Regions from separate parts of the Homo sapiens genome. Here region 1 is linked to region 2. The links come from fine-mapping of genetic effects on gene expression. A gene starts in region 2. The other region holds a variant in brackets. All regions are shown on one strand. Distances are between the middles of the regions.

Region 1 (15,434 bases), 23 kb before region 2:
CCCCCTACCCAAACTAGTATTTCAAAAACTAATACCCAATGTGATGCTGTCTTAGTTAGCTTTGTGTTGCTATAAAGGAATACCTGAGGCTAGGTAGTTTATAAAGAAAAGAGGTTTATTTGGCTCACAATTCTGCTGGCTGGAAGGTTCAAGATTGGACATCTGGTGAGGGCCCCAGGCAGCTTCTACTCATGGTGGAAGGCAAAAGGGGACTGGCATATGTAAAGATCACATGGTGAGAGAGGAAGCAAGAGAGGCGGGGAGGTGCCAGACAATTTTCAACAATCAGCTCTTGCAGGAACTAAGAGCAAGAGAACTCACTCACCCCAAGGGAGGGCATTAATCTATTCATGAGGGATCCACCCCTATGACCCCAACACTTATTAGGCTCCACATCCAACATTAGGACCAAATTTTAACATAAGGTTTAGTTGGGATGAACGTCCAAACCATAGCAGGCTTTAGGAGGTGGGGCCTTTGGGAGGTGATTAGGTCATGAGGGTAGAGGCCTCATGAATAGGATTAGTGTCCTTATAAAAGATGCATCTGAGAGCTGCCTAGCCCCTTCCACCATGTGGAGACACAGTGAAAAGGTGCTGTCTATGAACCAAGAAATATGTTCTTACCTAACACTGAATCTGCTGGCACCTTGATCTTGGACTTCCAAGTCTCAGATCAAGAATGGTGATAAATAATCAAGAATTCCCAGAATGGTGATAAATAAATCTCTGTTGCTTCTAAGCTACTGGTCAATGGTACTTTGTTATAGCAGCACGAAGGGACTAAGACATATGTCAAATGCTACTGATAGGTCAAGTCAGCATGAGGACTGAGGGCTTATCATGGGATTTTGCAAACATGGTGGTAATTTTAGGGGCCATAGATGAAAACTTAATTTTAATGGCATTGTTTAAGTATGACTTATGTGTGTTGATCTTGAGCAAGACACACTAGGGTTTGTGGCTGCTTTCCCAGAGATGGGTAGCACACCTACAAAGGAGGAGACTGCCAGGACTCTGCAAAACCTTTGCTATGGCCTCTTTGTTTAGAAATCATGCTTCTTTGTACCAATAAACTGAGAGACTTGTGATTAGATAGCTCTGTGGGCTCACTTTTTCTGCCCAGAAGAAATTAATATGAGGGGTAGAACAGCTGCTCACTGTTGGGAGAGTCACCAGTTTGCTTCCAGAAACTCAGCTACAAGCTTGGGTGACCTTTCTGTGTCCTCTGCAGACCGAGTAAGCTTTCAGCTCTGAGCCAGGACCATTTTAGAGTTAAAGATGTTAGTTTTAAGGCCAGCAAAGGAGCAAATGGAAGTTACACATTACTTCACAGTTGCATCTGGTAGTGTGTAGATGGAGGAATAGCTCTTTATCCTATTTCTGTCTCTTGGAGTCTCATAATGTTCATCTCCCTGAAATAAAAAGAAATAAGTAATGGTTCGCCAAGAGAGGAAAGGCCACATCACTGTGTAAGATCTATCAAGGCTTCAGTGAGATGAAGTTTGAGGACATAGTGTAGGGCAGTGGTTGTCAAAGTATGGTCCCCAGATCAGTAGCATCAGCATCACCTGGGAACTTGTTAGAAATGCAAATTCTCAGGCCCTACCTAAGATTTACTGAGTCACAAACTCTGGAGATAGTCCCCAGCAATTTTTTTTTTTGTTGGTTTTCTTTTTTTTTTTTTTTTTTTTGAGACAGAGTCTTGCTCTGTCATCCAGGCTACAGTGCAGTGGCACGATCTTGGCTCACTGTAGCCTCTGCTTCCCGGGTTCAAGCTATTCTCCAGCCTCAGCCTCTGGAGTAGCTGGGACCACAGGCAGGTGCCACCATGCCTGGCTAATTTTTGTATTTTTAGTGGAGAGGGAGTTTCACCATGTTGGCCAGGCTGGTCTCAAACTCCTGACTTCAAGTGATCTGCCCACCTCAGCCTCCCAAGGAGCTGGGATAACAGGCATAAGCCACCATGCCTGGCCCTCAGCAATCTATTTTAACAAGTGATTCTGATTCATGCTAATGTCAAAAATCATGGTCTGGAATTGAAGTAAGTTGGTGGCATTTACTGACTGGATTTAGGGAAGATAAAACAAATATAACAGTCAGTACAGATTTTGAGCCTAGCTGAGTCGGAAAAGTCAGTTTGTCTAGGGGCTGAGTGTGGTTGTTCATGCTTGTAGTCCCAGCTACTCAGGAGGCTGAAGCAGGAGGATCACTTGAGTCCAGAAGTTCAAGACCAGCCTGGGTAACATAGCAAGACCCCATCTCTACAAAAATAAAAATGAAATTAAAAATTAGCTGGGTGTGGTGGCATGTTCCTGTAGTCCCAGCTATTTGAGAGGCTGAGGTGGGAAGATCGCTTGAGCCCAGGAATTCTAGGTTGTACTGAGCCATAATTGTGCCTCTTCACTCTGGGCTGGGTACAGAGCGAGAACTTGTCTCTAAAAAACAAATGATCTAAATATATTTCTTATTAATTCCCTTAAAATGAAAAATTGAAAGATATTTCTCTAGTAAGTTAAATAGCTGTTAGCTATAAGTATATATAGCCACATATTTAAGTATGCAGCCATTGTCTATAAGTAATAGAACCCATCAATAACATGCACTTAAAACATAGAGTTATTTATTGTTTATTAGACAGAAATTCTGGAGTTGATCCAGGGTTGGTTCAGAGGCTCTTTGAAGCCATCAAGCCCTCAGGATTAGGCACCATGCTTTTTCTGTCTTTCTTTACTGCTACCCTCCTATGCTGGTGATGTCTCTTCTCATGGCTACAAAATGGTTGCTGAAGCTGTGAGCATTACATCCCAGTAGGACAGCATTTTAAGCAGGAAGGAAGTAGGTGGGAGCCAAAGTGCTTTCTCCTTACATACCATTTATTCTCTCTGTCTCATGCAGGCCTCCAGAAGACTTATCTATCAGTGTCCAAAATGGGCTGTATGCCTACCCCTAGGCCAATCACTGGCAAATGGGACTAAATTAGGTATCTCACTATTTATTGGGCCCATCAACCATCCCAACAAAATCAGAGTTCTGTTGGTCATGAGAATTAAGCAGGGCTGTAGGGAGGGCAACTAATAGTGCTTGCTATAGTTACAAAGATTTATAGACACTTAACTCATATTCCAGTGACCAATTAATTACTTTATACACATAATGCCTTTCTCCAAACAATACTCTAATTTTTCTACAGAATATTCCTCTCTCATGGCTTTACCATGATAGCTTTAACAACATAGAGAAACTATTTATAATAACCTCACATTAAAGTTACTTTTAATGGGGAAATCAGACTTGAGATTTCCCAAGTTGGTCTATTATATATAACAGGCTACCATGAGAACCAGTGCATCAGTCGAAAAAATAAAGAAAAAAAAAAAACTCCCTGTGTATTAGTCCATTTTCATGCTGCTGATAAAGACATACCCGAGGCTGGGCAATTTACAAAAGAAAGAGGTTTAATGGACTCACAGTTCCACAGGGTGGGGAGGCCTCTCAATCATGGTGGATGGCAAGGAGGAACAAGTCACATCTTATGTGGATGGCGGCAAGCAAAGAGAGAGGTTGTGCAGGCAAACTCCCATTTTTAAAGCCATCAGATCTTGTGAGACTTGTTCACTATTGTGAGAACAGCATGGAAAAGACCCACCCCCATGTTTCAGTTATCTCCCACTGGGTCCCTCCCACAACACGTGGGAATTATGGGAGCTACAAGATGAAATTTGGGTAGGGACAGAAAGCCAAACCACATCACCCTGAAAAATACTTTTGAAGTGGCATCGTAATTATTTCTAAATAAATAGCAAACACTTAACACTTTCCTCCCAGTGTAATTCCATATATTAGTTTGGGACAAATGTGTGGTAGTAGATATGGTGACTAAAATCAATCCATTCTATTCTTCTATAGGAGTATATTCTAGAGCATTCTTGTCATCCTATGGTGGTCCAAACATATGGCAGTTCATATTCACGCTGGAAGTAGAGACTTCTGGGGATGGGGACTAATATGTCCCAAAAGGGGACAAAACTCTGTCTAGGTCTCCTCTAGCCCTTTCCTAGTTGTCCACCAATTGGAGAAGAAGCTTATTATCTCATTGTTCACAACTTGACACTCATGGGAAGAAAATCACTAAGGGGCAGGGCCACTACTTTGAAAGGTGATGTGTTCGTGGTTGTGTTCTTTGGTCTAGCTTTTCTATCTGGTTATGGGTAATAAGTGAGTCACATAACTGATTCAAGGGGTATGGAGCGGGAAATTTAGCTTGGGCTTCTTGGTCTGAATCACAGTTTCTAATCTCGCTTAGTTTTATCATAAGAAGCCCTGTATGTTGAGGAGCAATCGCCATGTGCCCAGCTCTGCGTAAAGCACCATTTGATTTCCCATCCAGCTCTTGTTCTCTGTGGTCACATTCCTTGGGTTGAGGACCCTACAAGGTCAGGCAATGGTATTGGTAGGATTAGGGCACAAAATCAATGTCCTTAACACGGATATTAAGCTTTCTTCACAATAACATCAAATGAAGTGCTGACTTTGGAAACAAGCAGAAGTCAGTCATGGGTTTGAAATTACCCATTGCATTATGATGGTGCAGAAGCAATGCAGAAGATGCAGCTACAATTTCCCTGAATTTTCAGAAAGTGATTTGTATCTTAAGAGCTATTAAACATACAGAGAAAGCACAGATATCAGCAGTTCTTCACATGACTCCTGGGCTTTCAAAAGTTCCTAATTGGCATTGGTAAAGGGCCTTATTAGCTGGAAAATATCTCAGCATACTGGTTTGGCTATTACTGCTTTAATAAAAGACTGTAATTTTTACTTAAACCATGCAATTATATAGTAAAAATATTAGGCTTTTCTTTCAAAATTCATTTTATTCAGGCCATATCTCTTGTCAAGGAGCAGAAACCTATTCAATCTAAGCTTTAAAAAAGTGTGATTTATTGTACAGACCTTTATACAAAGCACACTCAAGGAAAAATGGTACAGAGGCAGGTCTTATGAAGGTGGTGAACCCAACCAGCTCTGAAGAGCTCACAGGCACATAGTTCACCACCATTAACCTGACCCAGACACCAACTTACTCACTGGTCTCAGTTCAATTTTTTTTTGAGAGACAGAGAGAAAATATGATTGGTTCTCCTTGAGTGAAGTACATCTGTTTGGCCTAATTAGTTGAGGCCAAGGTGATGAGGACATTTGAGCAAACATGGCCACTTAGGTGCAGGTCTTAGGTATGGCTGATGGAAGGAAGCAGGTTCTCTCAGAAGATGTATGGGCAGATGCAATGACTGACAACTCTATTTTAATGTAATATAAAAAATAGCATTTGACACCAAAATAGTTCTAAGAAAATGCAATTATTATGAAACAAACATGAGTGGATACAAGTAATGCAAAATGACGGAACTCTGACCTCTGTGCTGTCACAGTGATTTAATTGCCTTGCATGGTATTATCTAAGACTGACATAAATCTTTCAAATTATTCTTCCTTAAATATAGACATTCATATAAATTCTTTCTATGTTTATTGTGCTATCAAGTAATTATATATTTCATCCAATTTGATCTGTTAGGATTCCACGGTTTTGCCTTCAAATTCTGTAAAAGGAAAAGAATGAAAAGACATAACTATTTCCAAAATATGTTAGTAGCATATGTTATTATTAGCTTTTTTGTTTGCTGGATTCCTGTATTCATGATTCAATAGCTGAGAAAGTGCATGTGTGAGAGTGATTCTATGGGGAAATAAAGCCATGAGATCATAGTTAGGTATTTTCATATAGCAAAACTAATTGTGGCCTCTTCCCTGGCCACAAGCTATTTTTATGTGCTCTCTCCTGTCACCTTGCTTTTCATTCCAAATTATGTATGCAGCTATGTTGTCAGCTCCATTTCTGCTCGACTTTGCTGCTCCTCTATGTACCAATTCTAATTCCCCCTGATTAGCCCCATTCCTAAGTCCATCATACCATACATTTCAGAATGAAAGGTGCATGAAATTTTGTTCATTTTATTGGACATTTAAATAAAAGGGTGGGGGCTTGGGTGAATATCCTGATTGGTCAACCACAAAGAAATCTACGTCAGCTTTGTTTTCAACTCAGTTATATACTTGGGAAATCTGGACATGCAGATTACTTGTGTCAATTTCCTTACTTATTCATCTTGAGGGAAGGATTTAATGAAGGATTTAAGGATTTGGTTGCAAAAGTGGGAAGCAGGCCAGGCACGGTGGCTCACGCCTGTAATTCTAGCACTTTGGAAGGCCAAAGTGGATGGTCACTTGGGCCCAGGAGTTTGAGACCAGCCTGGGAAACATTGTGAGACCCTAGATCTACAAAAAAAATTAAAAATTAGTTGGGAGTGGTGATGCATGCCTGTGGTCCCAGCTACTTCAGGGGCTGAGTTGGGAGGGGCACAAATCTAGGAGGCTGAGGTTGCAGTGAGCTGTAACCGCACCACTGCACTTCAGCCTGGGCAACAGAGCAGACCTTGTCTTAAAAAAAAAAAGTGGGACGCTGGGATCCAGGAGAGTAAGCAACCAAGGCTGGGTCCCTGGGGAATGTGGGAAGTGGGGAGGGTTTGACAAGAATAGTATTGCAAGGAAATTTGATCCTCTATTACCCAGTTCCACTTGTAGAATAAGAAAATACTAGTTAATGTTTTGTCTACCACCTACCATTTAGGAACTCAAGACTCTGTGGCTTTTCAAAGGTGGTTTGAGGAATCTGATTTGGAAACTCTGCTGCTGCAAATAGAGTTAAAAGAATAGTTTTTAGTATGTAAAGCGCAATAATTTTTGCAGTTATTTCCATTTTCTTCTATCTTGTTCCTTCCACTCTGAGGTTTCTCTGAATGCATTGCTCTCCTAGGAGTTACAAGATGCTAGACCACTGTTATATAAAGTCTCAACCATTGATGATGACTTATCTATGTCCTGAGTGGACAATATGAACAAGCAGATGTTCAGTCAACTGCTCAGTATAGCATCTTTCTACCAACATCCCTATGAAGCCTCCTTCCCTGGCCCCCATAAACCACTGGGCAACTTCTCAATGATTGCTAGCTTCCTTCTAAATAGATAGTTTCAGATGAAGCCATAAAAATGGAAACAGACTAAATTATTATTTTTTTGATATATGGTTTGTATAGGCAGCTTTAGAAAAAATACAATTCTCTACATAAATATTTGCAAGCACTCACATTATATGTATACAGTTGACCCCTGAACAATGTGGAGGTTACGGACACCATTCCTCTGTGTGATCAGTAATCTACACGTAACTTTTGACTCCCCCAAAACTTAACTAATAGCCCACTGTTGACCAGAAGTCTTGCCAATAACAGTTGATTAACATATATTTTGTATGTTATATGTATCACATACTGCATTCTAACAATAAAGTGAGCTAGAGAAAAGAAAATGTTATTAAGAAAATCATAAGGAAGAGAAAATATATTTACTATTCATTAAGTGGAAATGGATCATCATAAGGTTCTTTATCCTCATTTTCTTTATGTTGACTAGGCTGGGGAGGAGCAGGAGGAAGAGGAGGCATTGGTCTTGCTGTCTTAGGGATGGCAGAGGTGGAAGAAAATCTGCATAAGTGGACCTG[C/T]ACAGTTCAAACCCATGCTGTTCAAGGGTCAACAGCATATGTGTGTGTATTTATGTAATACATTATAAATTATATATATGATGAGATATATATACACATAATGAGACAAAAAATCCCAGATTTTCCCTGTTAAGGAGAATTCTAACTTGGTTCTCTCGGTCTTTTCCTCTCACCTGTGTTCTGAGGAAGATGCTATCTTGCCCTATTGGTTATTTTGGGCTTCATAATAGAGAATTGAGAAGAAAAGGGAAAGGTGAGAAGCAAGAGATACAAGGGACTGGAGCTGAAGTTAGAGTATTTTGGGAGAGTTTGAGGTGAATATGACAAGGAAGCAGTTTTAGTGCTTTTTAAAAAAAAGTTGACATTTTTATGCCCATTTCAAAGTGTTTGTGAAGCATATGAAAAGAAGCAGTTATTTAAAACTTGCTTTGGTCGCTAGACCATAACATTATTCTCTAACAACTGGACAATATGAGTCACGACTATTAGCAATATAGACATTGTTTATAACCCCACTGACTTACCATCTGACATAGCTAGATTTTTTTCTTCATCAGGGACCAGATCTTTATGTCCTGAAATCAAAATTAAATAAAACATGCTGGATTTAGAATATAACCAACAACCTAACTAGGTCATGAGATGTTCTGAGTCAATGTTTTTCAAACTTCAGTGACTATGACCCACAATAAAAGACACATTTTACATTATAGTCCAATGTGTACATTTGTGTACATATTAATGAAACAAAAAAATACATGAAATAATACTTATCTTTTTCTAATTGTGATGGTTAATACCGAGTGCCAACTTGATTGGATTGAAGGATGCAAAGTATTGATCCTGGGTGTGTCTGTGAGGGTGTTGCCAAAGGAAATTAACATTTGAGTCAGTGGGCTGGGGAAGACAGACCCACCCTTAATCTGGTGGGCACAATCTAATCAGCTGCCAGCAAATATAAAGCAGGAAGAAAAATGTGAAAAGGTGAGAATTGCCTAGCCTCCTAGCCTACATTTTTCTCCCATGCTGGATGCTTCCTGCCCTCAAACATTGGACTCCAAGTTTTTCAATTTTGAGACTCAGACTGGCTCTCCTTGCTCCTCAAGCTTGCAGACAGCCCATTGTGGGACCCTGTGATTGTGTAACTTAATACTCAATAAATTCCCCTTTATTTATACATAAGTATCCTATTAGTTCTGTCCCTCTACGGAACCTTGACTATACAGATTTTGGTACCAGGAGTGGTTCTAGAGAAACAAAATATTAAGGATGGAGTTCTTTTGTTGGTTTTCGGGTTTCTGGAGTTGGCTGCTTAGTATGATTCGACCTCCAAATGCTAAGGACCTAAGGACTCTACTTTTAATAGTATGGAGAACACTGATAGTCCTTGGCATGAACTGTTTAATGAGTTATGCAAAATAAATGAATTTGACACTCCTGATTCACTGCCCATGAGAGGCAGGGAGTTTAGTGACTCTATACATAATACCTTTGACCATATGTGGTGAACAAAGGAACATAATGAAGCTGGTTAGCTGCTCCTAAGTTCAGTGGACAAAGTGATGAAAGAAAATGATGAACTCAGAGATTCTGTCTCCTGGCAGATACTGAGCCTCAAATCTGCAAAGATTGCCCTGAGTGAGTCTTATCTCCTGTAGAGAAAGAGCTGAAATTGTGGAAAAACAGACACAAGCTCTTATTATGTGAGTGGTTGAACTGCAACGAAAAGTGTATGCACAGCCTTGCCAGGTGTCTCCTGTTAAAGTGAGGGCATTAATTGGAAAAGAATGGGATGCTGCAACTTGGAATGGAGACGTGTGGGAGAACCCTGATGAAGCTGGGGACACTGAGTTTGTAAACTCTGATGAACCTTTTTTGCCAGATGGAACAGCTTCCCCATACCCAGTAGTGGCAACATCCCCTCCCTGACCCATGCTGTCATCAGCCTTTCCACCTTTGTCTGAGGAGATAAACCCTGTGCTGCCTGAGGCAAGAGTGACGGCCTCCCCTGAGGCAGTTGCCAGGGAAAATGTTGATTCTCCTCAGTAGCCACCCCTAACACCCTTGTTTGCTTCTAGACCTATAACTAGACTAAAGTCTTGGTGGGCCTCTAGAGGTGAGGTTGAGAGTATGACCCATGAAGAAGTGTGCTACACTCAAAAAGAGCTGCTTGATGTCTCTATTTTTTTTTTTTTTTTTTTTTTTGAGACAGAGTCTCATTCTGTCATCCAGGCTGGAGTGCAGTGGTGCAATCTCAGCTCAAGCTCCACCTCCTGGGTTCACGTCATTCTCCTGCCTCAGCCTCCCAAGTAGCTGGGACTACAGGTGCCTGCCACCATGCCTGGCTAATTTTGTTTTTGTATTTTTAGTAGAGACAGGGTTTCACCATGTTAGCCAGGATGGTCTCGATCTCCTGACTTTGTGATCTGCCCACCTCGGCCTCCCAAAGTGCTGGGATTACAGGTGTGAGCCACCACGCCCAGCCGATGTCTCTAATTTATATAAACAGAAATCTGGAGAACAGGTATGGGAATGGATATTAAGGGTATGGGATAATAGTTGAAGGAACACAGAGTTGGATCAGGCTGAATTTATTGACTTGGGCCTACTAAGTAGGGACTTGGCGTTTAATGTTGCAGCTCAGGAAGCTTTCTACTCTGGTCTCATTTCTGCCCTCTCCATTGCACAAAATTGCTCTCATTAAAGTCACAAATGACCTTTGTCATACATCCATTGGGTATTTTTCAGGTATCATTTTATCTGACACACCAGTAGCATCTGACAGTGTAGAACAGTCCTTGTTCTTGAAACACCCTCTGCCTTCAGGTCTTTTACATCATCAGATTCCAGGGACTTATCCTGACTCTCTGACCACCCCTTTCTCATGGTCCTCTGTCAGTTGCTCCTGTTCTACTTAACCATGACAGGCTAAGTTCCTCCAGGCTTTTTTCTCTTACCTTCTCTCTAGACAATCTCCACCATACTGATAGCTTCATTTCTATTTATGAGGCAACAACTCCCCATTTGGCAACTGTAGTCCAGATCTTTCTGAGCTCCAGGAAGTATGCAGTTCTCCATGTGACATTTCCATTTTAGATATCACACAGGTATTTCAGAATCAAAATGTAAGAAATGAAACTCATGCTTTTTCTAATCTGGCACCATGCTTCTTCCTCTTCCATCCACAGGCGTGCATGCACACACACACCCCTCCCACATTCTCATATTTTCTCTCTCTCTCTCATTCTTTTACCATTTTCCCCTTATCAATAGTAAATCTGCCCAGTTGTTCAGCCAGAAGAACCCTGGGATTCACCAAAGCCAATCAGATTCATCAGCAATTCTTGATATTTCCACATCCTAAATATCTCTCAAATTTCTACTGCCTCTGGTCTTGGCTGTATGCACTCCCCCTCAATACCAGTCTTTCTGCAAACAGCCTTGCCTTATTCCAGGATGTTTTTCAAACTAATCCCACAACTGACCAGGTTCTCTCCATCTAGAAATCTTCTGTAGCTCTCACATCTACTCCTCATGGCTGTATCTCTCAGCTCCATCTCTTCTGGCTTTGGCCACATGAGCTTTTCCACAGTTTTTCCAAACAAGTTGATATGTACTTTCCTGCTTCAGATTCTTCCCTTCTATCCGCAGGCATGAGCTCTGACAGCACAGCAGCCAACATTTACTCCTCCCACGCACCACAGTTGCAGTCATCTATATAATGTGTGGCCAGCCTCTTGATGGACTGCAGGTTCCCAGAGGGCAAGATCAGGTCTATCTCATTCACCTCTGTATTTCCAGCTCCTAGCACTGGCTTATAGTTGGTACTGCACACACATTAGCAGAAGGAAGGAATATTGGGCTCCAAAAGACACTTGACTAAAGCCCTTTGCATAAATAAATTGATTTATTTCTACATGTATATATCCATACCTAAGATGAGATCATCTTTAAGGCAAAGAAAAGATGTCAGCCCTCCCCTATTTCTTATGAGTGGAGAAAATACCAATAAGAAAAATAAGCTTCTTGAAATTTGTTGGCTTTTAATAAAGTTATCTAAAAATAAATCTGGTGTTGTGAGTTGAATTGTGTTTCCAAAAAGATATGCTGAAGTTGGCCAGGCATGGTGGCTCATGCCTGTAATCTCATCACTTTGGGAGGCTGAGGTGGGTGGATCACGAGGTCAGCAGTTTGAGACCAGCCCGGCCAACATAGTGAAACCTCGTCTCTACTAAAAATACAAAAATTAGCCAGGCATGGTGGTGTGCACCTGTAGTTCCAGCTAATCAGGAGGCTGAGACAGGAGAATCGCTCGTACCTGGGAGGCGGGGCTTGTGGTGAGCCGAGATGGCACCACTGCACTTCAGTCTGGGCAACAGAGCAAGACTCTGTCTAAATAAATAAATAAATAAATAAATAAAATATATATATATATGTTGAAGTCCTAACGCCTGGTACCTATGAATGTGATCTTATGGGAAATGGAGTCTTGGTGGATATAATCAATTTAAGATGGGTTCAGACTGGTTTAGGGCAGGTCTTGAATGCAATGACTGGTATCCTTAGAGAGAAAGAGAGACTTAGAAACACAGACACACACAGAGGAAAGATGGACATGTGAAGAGGGAAGCACAGGTTGGAGTGATGCAGCAACAAGCCAGGAATGCAAGCAGTGCAACCCAAAGCTAGAAAAAGCAAGAAGGAATTCTTTCTCAAGCCTTCAGAGAGAGTGTGGCCCTGCTGATACCTCACATCAGGTCTTCTAGTCTCCTGAGCTGTGAACAAGTAAATTTCTGTTGTTTTTAAGCCATCCACTTTGTGGTAATTTGTTATGGTAGTCCTAGGAAATTAATAAATATGTTACCTACAACATTTATAAGATCATAGTGTTCATAAGTTGTGTTTTCTTTAACATTCTTATGAGATGTTTTATTTCAAAGGACACATTGAACTTAACAGTTTATTTTGTCATTAGTTTAGAAATGACAAAATATAAATGAGAGTTATTCATATTAACAGTGATTCAGTTATAACAAATATTTTAATACTCTTTTAATAGCAGTCCAATAAAACATCACGTCTAAGAGCTTACCTGATTGGTATGGCTGAAAATGTATCTTGTCTCCAAGTGCAACAAGTTTCTCCTGTTGAAATTTTATAATCACAGAATTAAATGACCACAATTCCTAACTTAATTCTTCTTTTTTTTTTTTTTTTTTTTGAGACAGAGTTTCACTCTTGTTGCCCAGGCTGGAGTGCAGTGGCGCAATCTCAGCTCACCACAACCTCTCCCTTCTTGGTTCAAGCGATTCTCCTGCCTCAGCCTCCCGAGTAGCTGGGATTATAGGCATGTGCCACCATGCCCAGCTAATTTTTCTATTTTTAATAGAGACAGGGTTTCTCCATGTTGGTCAGGCTGGTCGCAAACTCCCGACCTCAGGTGATCCACCCACCTCGACCTCCCAAAGTATTACAGGCATGAGCCACTGCACCCGGCAACTTAACTATTCTTTAATAGAAAAACACCTTGATTCTTCATTTTTAAATAACGAACAAATATTTTTAACATACCAGAAATTGTATAACTAAATGAGTAGTGTTCCTTCACTGATTTTTTTCAAACTTTTATTATCTCATTATTTTTAAGAATTAAAAAAAAATTTGAATCCATAGAAAAACCAATGTATGCCTTGGCCTAGGAGAATCAGTTTAAGGTCATTATCAAGGTCAGTCCCCTTGCATCTATTCTGACATTACCTGAATTAGATCACTTGTCATTCGGGTCATTATTTGTTCACTTATTTCAACATCTTTGAGATCTGTAAGAACCACCCAAGTTCCATTCTCAAATTTCACAGGCATAGAAAAGACGATCCCTTTCGGAATACCAAACTGGCCTGCAGTGAGCAAACACAAAGCAAAGCAATGCAGCAGAACTTAGAAACATGCACCTTTTCTGTTAAGCATTGTAGAAAATGACAGACATAGTATAGGATTTTTAATGATAATGATGGAATTAAATTTCTCGGAATTCTTCTCCAAAGAGGACTGAAACACTCCCTCTAGAAGGATTGACTGAGCGACTATCCAAGTTCTAACAATTCTGCCATCTGTATTTATCTGACATCCAGAGGCTAATGCAGTCTTTCTCTTTTGAACCCTGTCTGTATTCTTTTTGTCTGTCTGCATGGCTTTTCCCTGGACCCCTATGCAGCCCATGAGCCTAAGTCATTTGTCCATCTGGCCTTCCACTCTTCTCACCTGCTACAGCACTCACACAGCCAGAGTATGAAGAATTGGGAAGGGAAAGGAGGGGAGGCAGGAAATTTGGTTATTCCTTTGCAGCCCCCAGTTTGCCATGTGTTTTGGTGTGCGTTTGCTTCATGGGGGATGATTTCCTTTACATATTTCTATGTCTTAAGCAGAAGCCATCCTTCATTTAATAACACATTTAATTTCTTTAAGATATACAGAAATACTTATATTTGGATGTGCTCTAAATAAAAAGATTGACCATATTTATTACTAACTGAGCACCATTCAGACAAAATTGTCCCCGTTTCTGGTGCCTCGATCACATAAGAAAATTATTTCTGCCATACTAGACAACAAAAATATCACCAGGGCAAAAAAACAAACAACAACAACAACAACAACAAAACATTGAGGACATTCGAGAAACCAAGATCTAAAAGACTTTTCCTTAGAGGGCTTCCCAGGTCCTCAAGTAATGCTGTATTTTGTTTAATCTGTGAAGAGCTAGCCTTATGGGCAGACAAGGTCTGAGGGTTTACCTATTTGGTATGGTTTCAGAGAGACAGATAATGATCATTTACCCTCCTCCCCCAAGTACTGCATTGTTTATTTTTGAATACAATTCCTACAGAGATTAATTAAACTTTCTTTCTACAAATAAAGGTAAGGTTTTAAGTGCCTATTTCCCTAAGGAGATAATTTGCTGATCTGAATTCACATTATGGCAATGTTCATGCACCTTAACTTCAATTGAACAAGATTGATTGAGTGTCTACCATATAAAATGCTTCTCCTGTGAAGAAGCAAAGAGGTGGCCCAGAAAAAGCCTTTGCCCTCAGGGTGCCACAAGGAAGGGGACAATGCAACTAATCATACTATCAAAAACAGGCACACTATAATATTCTCCGTGATAGGCGAACAAAATGCTATGTGGGGATACGGAGGAGAGACAGAGATTAATTCTGACATGGGGGATTTGGGGAGATTTCCTTAACCTGTACTGGCGTCACTGAAACAATAGGGAAGATGGTGGTTCTACTTATAACATAAAGAATACAAGAGATGGAACCAATTGGGAAGGATGACAGTACATTCAGTCTGGTATATGTTGGATGGAAGTGATGACATGACATCCAGGTGACAATGTTTCAGAAGCTAGAGCTCGGCAGAGAGGTCCAGGTCTGCAGCTCTGGGAGTGAATTAGCTTGCTAAGGGAGAAAGTAGAACCCAAAGGGAAGAGATGCTTCAGATAGACCTTACAGATGACAGAACAGCAGCTATTCTCTTTCCTGTTTTGTAAAAATGGTAGAAGTCAGCCGGGCGTGGTGGCTCAGGCCTGTAACCCCAGCACTTTGGGAGGCCAAGGCAGGTAGATCACAAGGTCAGGAGATCGAGACCATTCTGGCCAACATGGTGAAACCCCATCTCTACTAAAAATACAAAAATTAGCTGGGCATAGTGGCATGCGCCTGTGGTCCCAGCTACTCGGGAGGCTGGGGCAGGAGAATCACTTGAACCCAGAAGGAGGGGGTTGCAGTGAGCTGAGATGGTGCCAT
Region 2 (15,434 bases):
TAGGGTGGTTTAATATTTAAATAAGCACACACATAGCTGCCCTGACATTCTAAGGCTAGAAGTCAAAAGTAGAACAAAAACTTCTCACTACCAATCCCTTGCTCTGGCCATCTGAAATCAGTCCCCAAATAAGAAATATACCTGTTTATTAGGTTTTTCAAAGAAAACAGAATTCCCCCTATGCAGAAATCAAAATAAAAAAACTATTATATTACTGTAATTATGTGTTTATATTTCCTCCTAAAAAGATAAAGATGTAAGTTTCAGTTAGCCATAGCTCTTTTTTAAAAAATACAACCTCATCTACACAATAATGACTTTTTTTTTTTTTTTGGAAAGGGCTATCTTTTCCAAATTCTTACACAGAAAAATCCTTACAAAGATGGTGGGATCAACATAGGCTATGTAAGGTGTATCTGTAGCCACAATTCTGCAGTTGTCTACAGCTGTGACTATCAGCTGTGAACTGTAATGCCCACCATGGGAAGTTCAGAAATGCATCCGGGCATTTCTGGTATTCACAGTGGGTTTGGGGAGGTGTATAATGGGGGTTTCAACAGTATCTGTACCGATTTAATCCTTTGAAACATCTAAAGAAGATGTGATAGTTATTAAATCTGGGTTATAGGATCATGGATGTTTATTACATCATTCTCAATTCCTTTCTGTATTTAAAATATTTCATAATAACAATTTTAAAAATGAGTATATATTAGGATACACATGCACGTAAGAGCAGGAAAAGTGCAAAAGACAAACTGAGGGGTGAGGAAAGGAGAAGGGGAGGGAGAGAGAGAGCAAGAGAGACAGAGAGACAGTGCAGAGAAAGAAAGAGAGAGAGTATGACAACAAAGACTGCATGTGCCCAGACTGGGAGCAAAGTGGAGCACACATGAGAAGGAGAAAAGCAAAGGGGAGCAAGGCGAGGGGAGTGGGGTTACAGAGAGGGAGTGGGTGCATAGAGAAAAGGCAAAGAAAGCTCTAGCACGTGGGAAAGAGGGAGAGAGCAACAGTCAGAGAGGGTGAGCTTCTGCAAAGCAGCCATGCTATAGAGTTGTTTTTAGACCAAGTGACTGTGTTTGTGTCTATAAAACATAAAACTCATTTATGAGTTATATGGAGGATACAAACACACACACACAGAGATGCATATGTATATGTGTATACATATAAGTATACATACACACAAATTTCAAACCTGACATTCAGGTATTCTTCCATCATGAAATTAATCCCATCTCATTGTCCTTTCTAAATATAAAAAGTAAATCTCATGAATCCTGGGATTTGACTGTCCCACCTGGTGATCCAGACCTGCAAGGGGTTGATGCAAGTTTTCAGGGCTTCTTCCTCCTGCTCTTTTTCTATATGTGCCCCCAGGTTCTCTTGAGCAATTACCATCATCAGTTCAGTCGTCATGCTAGAGGTGACATCATAGTAAAGCTAAATATTGGGAGAGAAAAAGTCAATATCAGAGAATAGATAACTAGTTGAAATTGGCTATAATGGAAAGTTTTTGTTTAAAGTCAAAAGACAATAAAAAGAGACATGAGAGAATGTCTCAGAAAGCAAGATATTTGAAAAATAAAATAATGTAAGAGAATTATCATTATTAGAACAGATAAGTTAACTTATATACCTGAGCATGCTCCAGGAACTCATTATATCCTCCCAAAAGCAAACCCTTTCCTCCACGATCCAACAGCTCTCTCCAGATGATAGGGGAATTCTTGTGACTCCACTTATTCTTTTCACACACATCTTTTAGCCAATCCTGTTGAATGATATCCCAAGTGAAGTCATATATTAAATCTGCCTGAGAATTCAATTTCATACTTTAGAATTCAAACATTAAAATACTAGGTTGCTTTTAATGTCACTATATACACATAATATAATTTAGATATCTTCAAAGAGTAAAATGTAAATATAGAAAATAGTGATGTTAGTAACAGATTAATTAGATAAGAAAGCATATTCTTCAAATTAATTGACCAAATAAAGGTACTGAAAGTTGCTCTTTTTGCTGAGGAGACCTGGAATCCAAGTGTTTAGCTTAAAGAGAGGTCACATGTTCCAACTCAACTGATTTTTAAAAAAATTCAACTAGTTTTGCCCTTATTCTTTTACACATGCAATATTTCCAGTCTTAGGGGCATATAAAACTTGATACTTTTTTTAAAATCTGTGAGTGTGGTTTATGTAGTTCAGACTAAATTAATAAGCTAAAAGTTATTTGGAGATTTCCGACAATATTTATCAGAAAAAATTTAAATTATCATTATCTGATTTATATAGGCTAGGCCTTCCAATGACAAGATCTGAGTACAGTCAAACAGAAACATTTTTATCAGCAAAGTACATGGCAGCAGTCTTAAAAACCACGTCATTGGAGGCATGGGTAATGAGGCCACCTTACCAATAAAATCCTGGAAACTGATTTCCTTGCTAATATTGAAGATCTGCCTGCCTTTATCTCACTTAAAGCAAACAATGCTGCTATGAGGATTCCAACACGGTCCCTCTAGCCACAGCATAGCCAGACCAGTGAACTACTGGGCCCATGAAGGAAAGAGACATTACCCCAAAAAACCTTCTGCACCCTGCAAAGCATGTTAATGTCCCAGCAGGAGCTGCAAGGGCATGTACAAGACTGGACCCTTACAGTGCTGAATCAAGAGTGGAACATGAAGTTAGACAAGGGAGAATTTATTAGTATGAATCACTTTTCGGCAATTCAAGAGTGTATACCCTGGCAAGGACCTCAGAAGACAGGGACAACATGTTGCCAGACTGGCTCTTAGAAACTTGGAGAGAGTAATTAAATAAAATAGAAATGCCAGACTTCATGGAAGACGGTAGAAGAATGGATCAAAAGACTAGTGATGCCAGGTGTGGTGGCTCACTCCTATAATCCCAGCACTTTGGGAGGCCGAGGCGGGGGGAACATCTGAGGTCAAGAGTTCGAGACAAGCCTGGTCAACATGGTGAAACTCCATCTCTACTAAAAACACAAAATTTAGCCAGGCGTGGTGATGGGTGCCTATAATCCCAGCTACTCAGGAGGCTGAGGCAGGAGAATTGCTTGAACCTGGGAGGCGGAGGTTGCAGTGAGCCGAGATTGCACCATTGCACTCTAGCCTGGGCGACAAGGGCGAAACTCCATCTCAAAACACACACACACAAAAAAAAAACTAGTGAACGTGGTACTATGGAAGGCTAGAAAGCCCGCCATTCAACCATGTTCTCTGGAAGGGATTGGAGGATACAACATGCACCTAAGTGATAAGGAATGCACTGGTGAGAGGGGTCCTGGTGTCACTGAGGAGCCCAGTGTGGCTGTCCGTTCTAGGCCAAGGCTGTTTGTTTTTTTTTTTTTTCTTTATTTAAACTTCTATTTTAAGTTCAGGGGTACAAGTGCAGTTTTGTTACATAGGTAAATTTGTGTCATGGGGGTTTGTTTTACAAATTATTTCATCACCCAGGTATTCAGCCTAGTGCCCGTTAGTTATTTCTCGTGATCTTCTTCCTCCTCCCACCCTCCACCCTCCGATAGGCCCCAGTGTGTGTTGTTTCCCTCCCTGTGTCCACGTGTTCTTATCATTTAGCCCCCACTTCTAAGTGAGAATATGTGGTATTTGGTTTTCTGTTCCTGTATTACTTTGCTAAGGATAATGATCTCCAGCTCCATCCATGTCCCTGCAAAGGACATGATCTCATTCCTTTTCGTGGCTGTGTAGTATTTCATGATGTATATGTACCACATTTTCTTTCTCCAGTCTATCATTGATAGGCATTTGGGTTGATTCCATGTCTTTGCTATTGTGACTAGTGTTGCAATGAACATATGTGTGCATGTGTCTTTATAAAAGAATGATTTATATTTTCAGGGGTATATACACAGTAATGGGATTTTTGGGTTGAATGTTATTTCTATCTTTCTATGCTTCCACCAATAGCCTATAAGTGTTCCTTTTTCTCCACAACCTCGCCAGCATCTGTTATTTTTTGACTTTTAAATAATAGTCATTCTGACGGGTATGAGATGGAATCTTATTGTGGTTTTGATTTGCATTTCTCTAATAACCTGTAATGTTGAGCATTTTTTCATATGATTGTAGCCAAGGCTGTTAAAGGACATGCTGCCACACACCTGAACTCCCTGGCAATTGAGATGATAAAATCCTGAAACAATAGAGGCCAGTGGGCAGTGCCAACCAGACAACATTTATTGTAACAGAAGCACTACCAACCCAGCAGATGAGATAACTTAGCTGAAGACCAGACCAGCAGAGAGTGAGGGAAATCTATAATGGATGGTAGAGAAGAGAGGGAGAGAAAAGGTGATGACTGTCAGTTTGGCCCTGAAACTATGAGCAGTGGAGACTATAGTTCATTTGACTATCCTTTCTCTTATCAAGTTTACCCAGGGAAAGATGGCAACCAGAATCCTGGAGGAGCTGTTCCAAGATGGTGTGAACTGATTATAGGGAGCATGTGGATCCAAAAGGCACAACAGGTGAACTGTAGCCAGTGCTGTCATGTACACTCCAGGTTCCCCCTTCACAAATGAGGCACTCACTCTCCCAGGCACCTGGTGTATTAGAGGCTGATAACTTAAAGTCTGACTCCATTCTCTCTCTAGGAATTGACTTCAGCCAAAGCAAATTGCCTTGCCTAAGGTTAAGTTCCTTCCCAGGGGCAGCTGATATCCGATGGCTGGTTGAGGAGGGAGCACAAAAGCTCAGCTACCTTGCCTCAGTTTGGAATAATTCTGAAAGGCCATCAAGAGTTCACTGTGGGATCCGCTGAGCCCTCTGTTGCAGCTATGTCAAACTTCAACTTCTCCCTTTACCCAATCCTGCCACCCTCATTCCGTTTCAGGATGCTGTTCCCAAGACCACTTCCCAGTAAAGCCCCTTCACCAAAATCTACATCTCAAAGTCTGTTTCTGGGGAAACAGAGTCCCAAAGAAGGGTATCCCAAATAAGTCATTGGAAATCAATACCAAGGAGAATGAAAAGTTAACAAGTGCAGTGTAAGCTACCTGGATTCTTCAGGGGGTGCAGTCAAACTTATTCTACTTATTGATTAGGGTCTCATTTGTTCTACTAGGTATTAGGGAAAAAACATAAATATTATTTTGAGACTGGTAAGTAGGGACTTGTTTTACTAGTATTCAAATATCACTAGCACATGAACAGTCATTCCTAGAAGCCAGTCTAATACACCAGTTAATATTTAATCAAATTAAAACACATTTTGTGCATGAGTGAGTTCAACAAACTATAAAGGCTTCTTACCTCCCAAACCTCAGGACGTTGTGTGATTTTATGTATCCGAAAATCAGGAAGATTCTTTTGTAAATAGTCTGCCACAAGTTCTGTTTTAGCATAATATGGACAATCTGCTCTACCTAAAAGAGTTCAAATTAGCAATGTTTTCTTTCATCATGCAGAAATTATTATGTAGTTCTAAGTATTTGCTATGTAATTACAGAATTAGTCATAGTTATGATATAATTTGATAACATAAAGTTGCAGTATAAACTGCTATTACATAAACTTCTGATGTTTATTAGATTAATACAAATAAAATAAACTTCATAGGAGGTCAGAATCTTAAGTAACAAAATGTGGAAAGAAAAAAAACCCTACTGAATATTTATTCTTTTCTAGTAATATGCTAGACCTCACTTCCTCTAGGAGGCTGCTAACTACTACTAATTCAGCATGAATTAGTACTGATAATGAACTACTCACTAATGGCCACCAAAAGGTAAAGTTTGAAGTGAGGAGTGGTGGTAAAGTCACTTTTGGATTTGATGTGTGTCAGGAAGTTGTGGGGGTGGGAAAGAAGAATCTGGGATAACTTCTATTTTCCGGCTTGGGCAGATGATGCTGACCTTAACTAGAGAAAAATCATGAATGAGAAATTTAACTTTAGTCAAGTGCAGTTGGAGATACTTGTAGTGTGTCTAAGTGGATATGATCAGCAAGTAGCTGGATATATATGTATATGTATATGTACATGTATATGTATATGTATACATATATATGGGGTGCAGGTGCCATGTAAGGGTTTCAGACACACAATTTGTAGCCATCAACACCCAGGAAGTTAAAGCCACTACAACAGATGGAATTGGGCATCTGATAGAGCAGGAGGGATGGGGAAAAATGCAGAGCCCTCTCTGTAGCATTCTTCCTCAGTTAAGATAACTTAACTCCTAAGTTACCAACCTGTCTGAAGCTACCCCTGTCTATCAGCCACCCTGTCTAGTTCAAATCTATGGTTCATCTCTTCAAACCACTTTCTGGTCCATGTCTTAAATTATCTTTCTCCACTATCCTTTTGGGAAATGAGCCTGATAAAAGCCCCTTATCCTGGATGAACTCAATTACTTGCCTTTTCTGTAGCTGGGTCCTACCTGCTAGCCACCACTACAGAAACATTGTAGAACCAAGCGGAGGGCACCTTTAAAATTCATGGTCACCAGCTTTAATTGGCCCTCAACCCTGCGTGGAGATCCCTCTGTTTCCCTTATCAGCACTCTCTTCTGTTCTCCTCATTACTATTCCAGTCTTTTTCCTCTTCCTCCAAATCTTTTCCTTCTCCCCAACATTCCTCTGCATTATCAGAACACAACAGACAACTTTGCTTTTTACTTTACAAAAACCAACCCAAACAAAACAAAATGGCATTAGTTTGGAAAATCTCCAACCTCGTCCATCACATCTACATGCCTGTCTGTACTTGGACTCATCCTTTCCTCCTTTCTTCATTTCAATGGAAGAGGAGTCCTACCTCCTGTCTAATCTAATCCCACCACTTATGCTCTGAATCCCATCCTCATCTGCCTTCATAGGAACCTTGCTTAGTTAATTATCCTCTCTTTCTAGAGTCTTGTATCTGTTTCTAATAGTCCCTTTCTGTCATATTTAAATATACTCATTACATTATGTTTCTCCTGTCCTAAGAGACAAAAAACTCATCTCCCCCTCTAGCTATTGCCTTTCGTATGTCCTTTTTGATCAAAATATCTTGAAAGAGTTCCCTATATTTGCCATCCTCAGTTCTTCACTTCCATTTATTTCTCACCCACTGCAATGTAGCAGACCCCACAATTCTCTTGAAGGTCACTGAAGACTTCCATGCCACTAAATCCAGCAGATACTTTCCGATCCTTTTCTTGTTGACCCTTGGCAGCATTTGCCACCACTGCCCCCTTCCAGGCTTTTGAAACACTGCTATAGTGGGGGCATTCTCCCAGTTCTCCTATTCTATGGTCACTCCTTTCTATCCTTTGTAGGTTTCCATTCCTTTATCAACCCATTAAAAGGTATCATTCTGAGAAGCATCTTGTCTTTATAACTTACATATTCTTTTTGGCCAATCTGCTTCATTCCCTTGGCTTCAAGTAGCAATCTATATTTCCAGCTCAGATCTCCTTATCTAGATGCCTACACCCTCCTGTATTTTCCCATCTCCTTCAAAATGTCTCATAGACACTCAGAAGGTCTATGATGTATTTTGTCACCATTCCCCTACTAAATGTGCTTAGTCGCTTATATTTATTATGTCCATCTCCCTAATTATCTAAGAGTAGTAAGAGTATCCAGAGTATTAAACCTACTCATCCGCTTTTTTTTTTTTTTCAGTGACTCCTAATCTCTGCAATTATTCAAACCTCTGCTTGGGAACAATGTTTAACTCCTTTTTCTCCCTTATCTGCCCTCCTCCAGTCAATTAGACATCCAGTTCTATAGATTCTGCCTCCCTAATATCTCTCCAATCCATTCACTTCTCTCCATCTCCATTGTTTGCCACTCTAGGCCAGGTCACAATCAACTCCCTCCTGGACTATAGCACTAGTCTCCTAACTGGTTTCTTGGTATCCAGTCTTTTTGTCCCACACTATAGCCGTAACATTCAGATAAAATTCAGATTTGATTAGGCCCTCCTCCCCTTCTAAAAACCTTTCATGTACTCTGGATAAAGTCTAAACTACTGAATGTGGCTCAAAAGAATCTACATTATCTAACTCTAGCCTCACCTTATGAAATTCTCTTCCTTGTACTATTTGCTTCAGTCCTAATAAACTTATTTCAATTTTATACTTATTTTATATTCTCAATTGTCACCAAACTAGTTCTCCTTGCTCTAACCCCACTCCCAGTTACCCATGCCTAAATTGCTCCCCTCCTTTCTACCTCTTCTCTGTTAGGTAATTCATTATCATCTTTCAGGTATCTGCTTAAAATCTCTCCCTCTGGGAAACCCTTACCTGATTAAGTAAGGTCCCTGCTATCGTTCCTATAGAACCCTGCCCTGTCAGTGTCATACATGCAACATTCTCTGTGTGTTTTCCACTGACTTCCCACCATGTGGTTAGTCAGTGTTCAAAAATATTCTTCTGGGCCAGGTGTGGTGGTGCATGCCTGTAATCTTGGCACTTTGGGAGGTCAAGGTGGGCAAATCACTTGAGCGTAGGAGTTCAAGACCAGCGTGGGCAACATGACAAAACCCCATCTCTACAAAAATACAAAAATTAGCTGGGCATGCTGGTGTATGCCTGTAGTCCCAGCTACTTGGGAGGCTGAGGTGGGAGGATCGCTTGAGCCCAGGAGGTCAAAGCTGCTGTGAGCCACGATTGCACCACTGCAATCCAGCCTGGGTGACAAAGTGAGAGCCTGTCTCAAAAAAAAAAAAAAATCTCCTGTGGATGGTAGATGTCAATTGTGTTCAATGCATCAAAGAGATCAAATAAGTCAAAGACTAAACAGCTTCTATAAAAGTCAGTGGTGACTTTGGTGACAGCAGTTTCTGTCAGGAAGCAGAAGTAGAAGCCTTCTTCCAAGACTGATTGGAAGGCAGAACTGGAGATGGAAGAGCAGTCTACTCTTTTAAGAAACTTTACGAGGAGAGGAGGTAGGTACCATGGATTGTTGTAATAAAAGCCTTCTCAGTTGAGTCCTTGCTGTCAACCAGCACTTTCAATCATTCTCTCCGTTGCTGCCAAGACAGGCTTCCTAAAATGCAAACTCATTAAGACTACTCTCCTGCTTAAAATTTTTCTATAATTCCTCATTGCTTTCAGGATACAGTTCAAACACCTTTGCTTGACCTACATGAAATGCAAGGACCTGGCTCCTGCTCCTGTTGTAGCCCCAGGTCCTGTCACGCCCCACATATCCAGATCTTCTGTTAGGCCAGGAAGCTTCCTGCCTCTCTGCTTTTATTTGGAATAGCCTCCTCAGCTCACACCTTCACAACTCAGCTCCTGTAATACCTTCCCCAGCCAGTTCCTTGTGTCCACCTCTCCCTCATCCCCCAAACCCAGATTAGGAGTCTACGCTCCCAGAGGCCTGTGCAGGTCTCCTTCATCGCGTTAATCACACCGTATCAAAAGTACATGTTCTGTGCCCCATGAGACTGAAAGCTCCTCTAAGGCAGGGATATGTTTCCCTCCATTGCATCCCCAGTGTCCCACAATGCTTGGCGCACCGTCACGGTCCAGTAAAAAACTTTGAATAAATCTATAGCAAAGCATGGAGCGGTCCGTATAGAGGCTGCCAAGCCGAGCGGCCATGGGAGGTGAGCTGTTGTCGGCGTTTTGAGCAATCTGCGGGCGGACGCGGGGATCACTCACCCGCGATGACGAATTTGGCCATGGTCGAGAGAGACTCAGAGGCAGGGACCGCGGCTTCGCGGTTTCCTGGCAACCACGCAGCCAAGGGCAAGGCGCAGGCGCACTACAAAGTCTGGCGCCCAGCAGAGGTTAGGTGTTTAAAGTTAGGACCTGAATGGGTTACGTTGCGATACACGATCAAACATCGCCCTTATAAGCTCTGTGGTATCCCCGAGCCCCACTCCTGTATGCAGGGAAATTAGTCATTCTCCTTGGTAAACTTTCTTCAAGTAAGTCCTTCAGCTACAGCCGCGAACATATGCTTTTTGACCTTTGAGGGAATCCGTAAGATCTCGTGAGAAGCGCAGCTTCTCGGGGAAGCTGTCATGGCTGCTCCTGTACGTAGTCACGGTCTTGTGCTCTAAGGTGAGTGGAGGACGAGCTTGGGCTTAGCGGCAGCCCGTATCACATCCTAGACTTTTTACTTCGAGGAGAAGAGTCTCACGAGTTGTCCTGGAAGTAAGTTTAAAGGAGGTGGGTTAATGCTGGGCGGCCCAGCTGCGGAAGGACAGGCTCTTGAAGTTGGTTCTGGGGTCTGGTGAGGCTGGCTGGTTGTATAAGATCTTCCTCTTAAGCGCAGGCCACGTGCAGACATCGCTTTCGTTTTCTGCTTCTTCCACTGAGCCGTTCTACCTGCCCAGGTCCCTATTCTTGATGGTCTGGGTTCGGCCGTTGCTAAATCGTCATGTTGAAAATGATCTATCAGCCGGGCGCGGTGACTCACGCCTTGGGAGGCCGAGGCGGGTGGATTACCTGAGGTCAGGAGTTCAGGACCAGCCTGGCCAACATGGTGAAACTCCGTCTTTACAAAAAATACAAAAATTAGCCGGGCGTGGTGGCATACGCCTGTAATCCCAGCTACTTGGGAGGCTGAGACAGGAGAATTGCTTGAACCTGGGAGGTGGAGGTTGCAGTGAGCCAAGATCGCGCCACTGCACTCTAGCCTGGGGGACATAGCAAGACTTTGTCTCAAAAAAAAAAAAAAAAAAAAAAAAAACAGAGAAGAGAAAAGAAAATGATCTATCAATGCTAATCCCCTAATTTTCACCGAGGACATTTCCATAACAATGCCAACAAAAGTCTCTCCTACAGAGAAAGCTTTATGGAACGCTTTTGCACCAGAAAAATCTCATTAATACAATGACTACTTCCAAAGTGACCTGGCTTCTTTGAAACTGGACACATTGTGGTAGATTGGAGGGAGCCCACATTGGTAAAAAAAACTTTTACTGTTTTATGTAAATGTTTAATGGCTCCATAGGTTCCCCATTTTCTCTTCTGTTAAATGCATTTCATTTCTTTAAGTAAAAGTTTTGTTTTAATTTTTATTCTTTTCATTACTTCTTCCCCTACAGGAAAACGACAGCACGTGTTCTTTTTCACTAGTAGAAGTGACGTTGGTTTCATGTTGACAACTTTGAAGCCATTTGGAAGTGTTTCAGTGGAGAGCAAAATGAATAACAAAGCGGGCTCCTTTTTCTGGAACCTTAGACAATTCAGTACATTAGTTTCAACAAGCAGAACTATGAGGCTATGTTGTTTGGGACTTTGCAAACCAAAAATAGTTCATTCAAACTGGAACATTTTAAATAACTTTCATAACAGAATGCAATCAACTGATATCATTAGATATCTCTTTCAGGATGCATTCATTTTTAAATCAGATGTTGGCTTTCAAACAAAGGGCATAAGCACTCTAACAGCCCTTAGAATTGAAAGACTACTTTATGCTAAAAGACTGTTTTTTGACTCAAAGCAGTCTCTTGTCCCTGTTGATAAATCTGATGATGAATTGAAGAAAGTAAACCTTAATCATGAAGTCTCCAATGAAGATGTTCTTACCAAGGAAACAAAACCAAACCGTATCAGCAGTAGAAAACTGTCTGAGGAATGTAATTCCCTGAGTGATGTGTTAGATGCATTTTCAAAAGCGCCCACATTTCCTAGTAGCAACTATTTCACAGCAATGTGGACAATTGCCAAAAGACTGTCTGATGACCAGAAGCGCTTTGAAAAACGACTGATGTTTAGCCACCCTGCATTTAATCAGCTCTGTGAACATATGATGAGAGAAGCCAAGATCATGCAGTATAAGTACCTACTGTTCAGTCTTCACGCCATAGTGAAGCTTGGAATCCCTCAGAACACTATTTTGGTGCAGACTTTGCTGAGGGTGACCCAGGTAAAATAAAAAGGAGATTTAAACATGCATTTACTTGATTTAGAATATTTTGAAAGAATGAAGGGATATAGATATGTAGCCTTCTTAAAAGAGACTATCAAATGGAATGGTAGTTTCCTTTATATTTATTTCTGCATATATATTATATGATTTAGAGGCCTTAAGTTAGCTATTTTCTTCCTTTTGCTATGGAAATTTATGAAAGCCTTCCACATTTACCATCCCCAGGGTTGAGTAGTGGTGAAGAAGCTAAAGTGAGGAGAGATGCAAGATATACAAAGAAAGCCTGGGTAGTTGAAGAAGGAGAGAAGGGAAGGGGAAGGAAGAGAATTTAGTCCATGGTAGAATTGGAATTCAGGCCCAGTAGATGATACCTAAACTGATGAGCAGAATGATAGTGAAGGGGATGGTGTTTCAAGTAGAGAGGATTGCATGCCCTACTGTTCCCAGAGGAAAAGTTTGGCAAATTTGAAGAGCTGAAAGTAGTTTGGTGTAGCTGAAGCACAGAATGATGGAGTTGTATGTTTGAGTGGGTGGGAACAAGTTTTGTACATGGCGATCAAAGGAGAGGAGTGAGGGGCAAGAGGCTTAGGGGCAGAACAAGAGGCCAGAAAAATAGGAACCAAATCATAAAGAGCCTCTTACGGCTAGCTAAGGAGTATGCATTTATCCTGTAGGCAATGGGAATCCGTTGAAGAATTTTAAGCAATGGGTTGACGTGCTCAAATTTGTATTTTAGATCACTGAATGAGTGGAAGATGTATTGGAAGAAGGTTAAAATTGGATGGAGGGAGCCATTTTTAGTCTAAAGCAAGAATGTCAGTGTCCTGTTTAATGTCACTGAAATGGTGCCAAATGTAAGGAAGGAAGGATTAGCTTGTTAATCATTTATGTTTTAAGAGTGTACACTTCTGACGTATAAACTCAGTGATAATGAAGTAATTTCTTAGCCAGGTGTGGTGGCTCACACCTGTAATCCCAGCACTTTGGGAGGCCAAGGCAGGAGGATCTCTTGAGCCCAGGAGTTTGCGACCAGCCTGGGCAACAAAGGGAGACTCCATCTCTACAAAAAATACAAAAATTAGCTGGGTGTGATGTACTTGCCTGTGGTCCCAGCTACTTGGGAGGCTGAGGTGGGAATATCACTTGAGCCTGGGAGGTCGAAGCTGCCGTGAGCCATGATCGTGCCACTGCACTCCAGCCTGGGTGACAGAGCCAGACCCTGTCTGAAAATAATAATAATAATTTTTTAAAAGACAGGAATTCCTTGGGGATAATCTGGCATATATCCTGTCTTGCTATAGAATTCAATAATTGGGTTCATAGCTATGGGAAAGTTTTTAACTTTTTACATTACTGTGATTTCCATATGTCCTTAAGGAATAACTAATTTTTATTTAGTGTATGTGTGTGTATTTGTTTAAACCACAGAATATCCCTGTTTATTTGTAGGCTGTGTATTAGTTCCTATGTAGTTATTTAAAAGTGACTAATAAATCACCTTACCTGGTCAGTGATGCTCTTACTAGATTTTGGACAGATATTTGCATCGGGATGACATCTGTGTTGGTGAGGTATGAGTAGTAGATTTTTGTAGTCAAAACATCTGTATGGATGATGGTGTCTCACTGACCTGTTGGAATAATGTAAAGACATTTTAGAGGTGAAAGGACAGTGTGCCATCAATGAATTTGCCCTTCAAACACATAGACAAGTGGTCTTTTCTTTCATAGTAGATATGGATGGAATGCTGTAAAATTGTTAAGGAAACCCTTTCATAGGAAAGAAACCTTTTTTTTCTTCTAACCATAACCATTTCTTATTATTACCTGGTTCTGACTTAAGACTTTGTGATTCATTGGTTATGTAATTTTAGCAAAAGAGCTTCTCTCTCTTCAGGCTAAGTTTCCTCAGATGTGATTTTTTGTGAGGTTTATAGACTAGTGATTAAACTGTAGAGTACTGCTAGTTAAGCTGTGTTGTTACTATTCACTTTCCAGATTATGCCCACTATTTCTGGAATCAAACTTAGTACCCTAAGTAAAGGGACCTGAAAGAAGAATCTGTGGGGTGTAGGCTTCCCTTGAGACCCAGATAGCAGTGGTAGAATGTGGCAGGAGATGTGAATCAGAAGACTCACAAGTAAAGTTTCAGCTTGATACCCAGGAAAGGATCTAGGGAAATTGTAAAGGCACAACCATTTAAGGATCTTTAGAGATGGGCTAGTTACCTTCTGTACTTCAGTAGTTCTTATATTCCTGCACTTTAACTGTTTTTGCCTTTGTAATGACCTTGAATTCCAAGAAGAGGTAAAAATAATGTTTAATAAAAGTTGTTTCAGAAGCAGTGGAATATAATAAATATCAAATGTGTTTTCAGTGATAATGGTGAAGGTAAAAAAGTGTTGATGCATAAAAGGATGTGTATCAGTCAGCTGGAAAATTCAGTAAGTATGACTTTTTATTTCCCAAAGATGCTGTTTATTGTGGACTGACTGTAGGAATTGTTGGTTTGATACTCAATCGTTTTATTCAGTACATCAGTTCAGTGGTTTTGCTTGGGTAAGATAGTTTACTATGGGCTCATCACCTGTAGTGTTTTTGTAATTATATTTCAATAGGAACGTATCAATGAGTGTGATGAGATATGCCTTTCAGTTTTGTCAACTGTTTTAGAGGCAATGGAACCATGCAAGAATGTTCATGTTCTACGAACGGGATTCAGGTGAGAACTCTCTTATGCTTTCTTCATGTGGTTTTCTTTGTTCCTCATATATCTGGAATAAAAAAATTGAGATGAAAACTAAACTCCTTTCTTGAGGGGAGGAGGGGTTGGGGAGGCTTTGTTGGTAGTTACAGTCTTTCATACCTTATTAAGCTTAAAATCCTGACTCTGGATGACATAGGCTGGAAATACTTCTCTTAGGGTCCATAATAACAAAGATGTGAGTAACATTGAAATCTAAATTAATTTATTTTAAAACATAGTACTGGCCAGGCGCAGTGACTCATGCCTGTAATCCCAGCACTTTGGGAGGCCGAGGCAGGCGGATCACGAGGTCGGGAGATCGAGACCATGGTGAAAGCCCGTCTCTACTAAAAATACAAAAATTAGCCGGGTGTGGTGGTGGGTGCCTGTAGTCCCAGCTGCTTGGGAGGCTGAGGCAGGAGAATGGCGTGAACCCAGGAGGCAGAGCTTGCAGTGAGCTGAGATCGCGCCACTGCACTCCAGCCTGGGCAACAGAGCGAGACTCTGTCTCAAAAAAAAAAAAAAAAAATAGTACTGATGCGGGGTAGGAGAGAATTGATATGTATATTTAATTCAGAATAGTTATTCGGGGACTATGTGAGGGTTGACGTTGACCCAGCTTGAAAAGGGATTTATAAAATTGATATAAATGATCTAATGTCATAGATTAGTGAGAGTAAAACTTAACTCCCTTTGACATTGACTATGCATAGGATATGTTACTATAATCTCCTGACATAATTTGTTCTTTAGTAAAGACAGCACAATAATGTGAGAGAAAATAGCACTATTAATAGATTGGGTCTCGATCTT

Alleles and levels. Positions count from the first base shown, and alleles are read on the strand shown. Sizes are in standard deviations (SD) of each study's normalised expression.
In carriers of allele T in region 1, the expression in thyroid of the gene that starts at base 9,731 in region 2 tends to be higher than with C alone (moderate effect, 0.75 SD a copy in GTEx).

What was found.
Region 1: its variant is fine-mapped to the expression of MDH1B in thyroid (GTEx, PIP 0.98).

Annotation. Positions count from the first base shown.
Region 1 is chr2:206,732,907-206,748,340 of GRCh38, forward strand. It overlaps MDH1B (malate dehydrogenase 1B), which reads right to left. Exons shown (of 12, transcript NM_001039845.3): 8 at 13,381-13,520; 9 at 12,716-12,767; 10 at 8,148-8,198; 11 at 6,687-6,755; 12 at 4,857-5,605. The coding sequence ends at 5,577. Among named protein-coding and RNA genes, the nearest start is that of DYTN, 22 kb to the left of the region's middle. The variant C/T (reference allele first, on the strand shown) is at 7,624.
Region 2 is chr2:206,755,598-206,771,031 of GRCh38, forward strand. It overlaps MDH1B (malate dehydrogenase 1B), which reads right to left and starts at 9,731. Exons shown (of 12, transcript NM_001039845.3): 1 at 9,653-9,731; 2 at 5,304-5,416; 3 at 1,640-1,774; 4 at 1,301-1,443. The coding sequence starts at 9,674. FASTKD2 (FAST kinase domains 2) reads left to right here and starts at 10,009. Exons shown (of 12, transcript NM_001136193.2): 1 at 10,009-10,150; 2 at 11,047-11,873; 3 at 14,494-14,597. The coding sequence starts at 11,097. RefSeq lists enhancers at 9,510-9,649, 9,900-10,279, 14,102-15,301.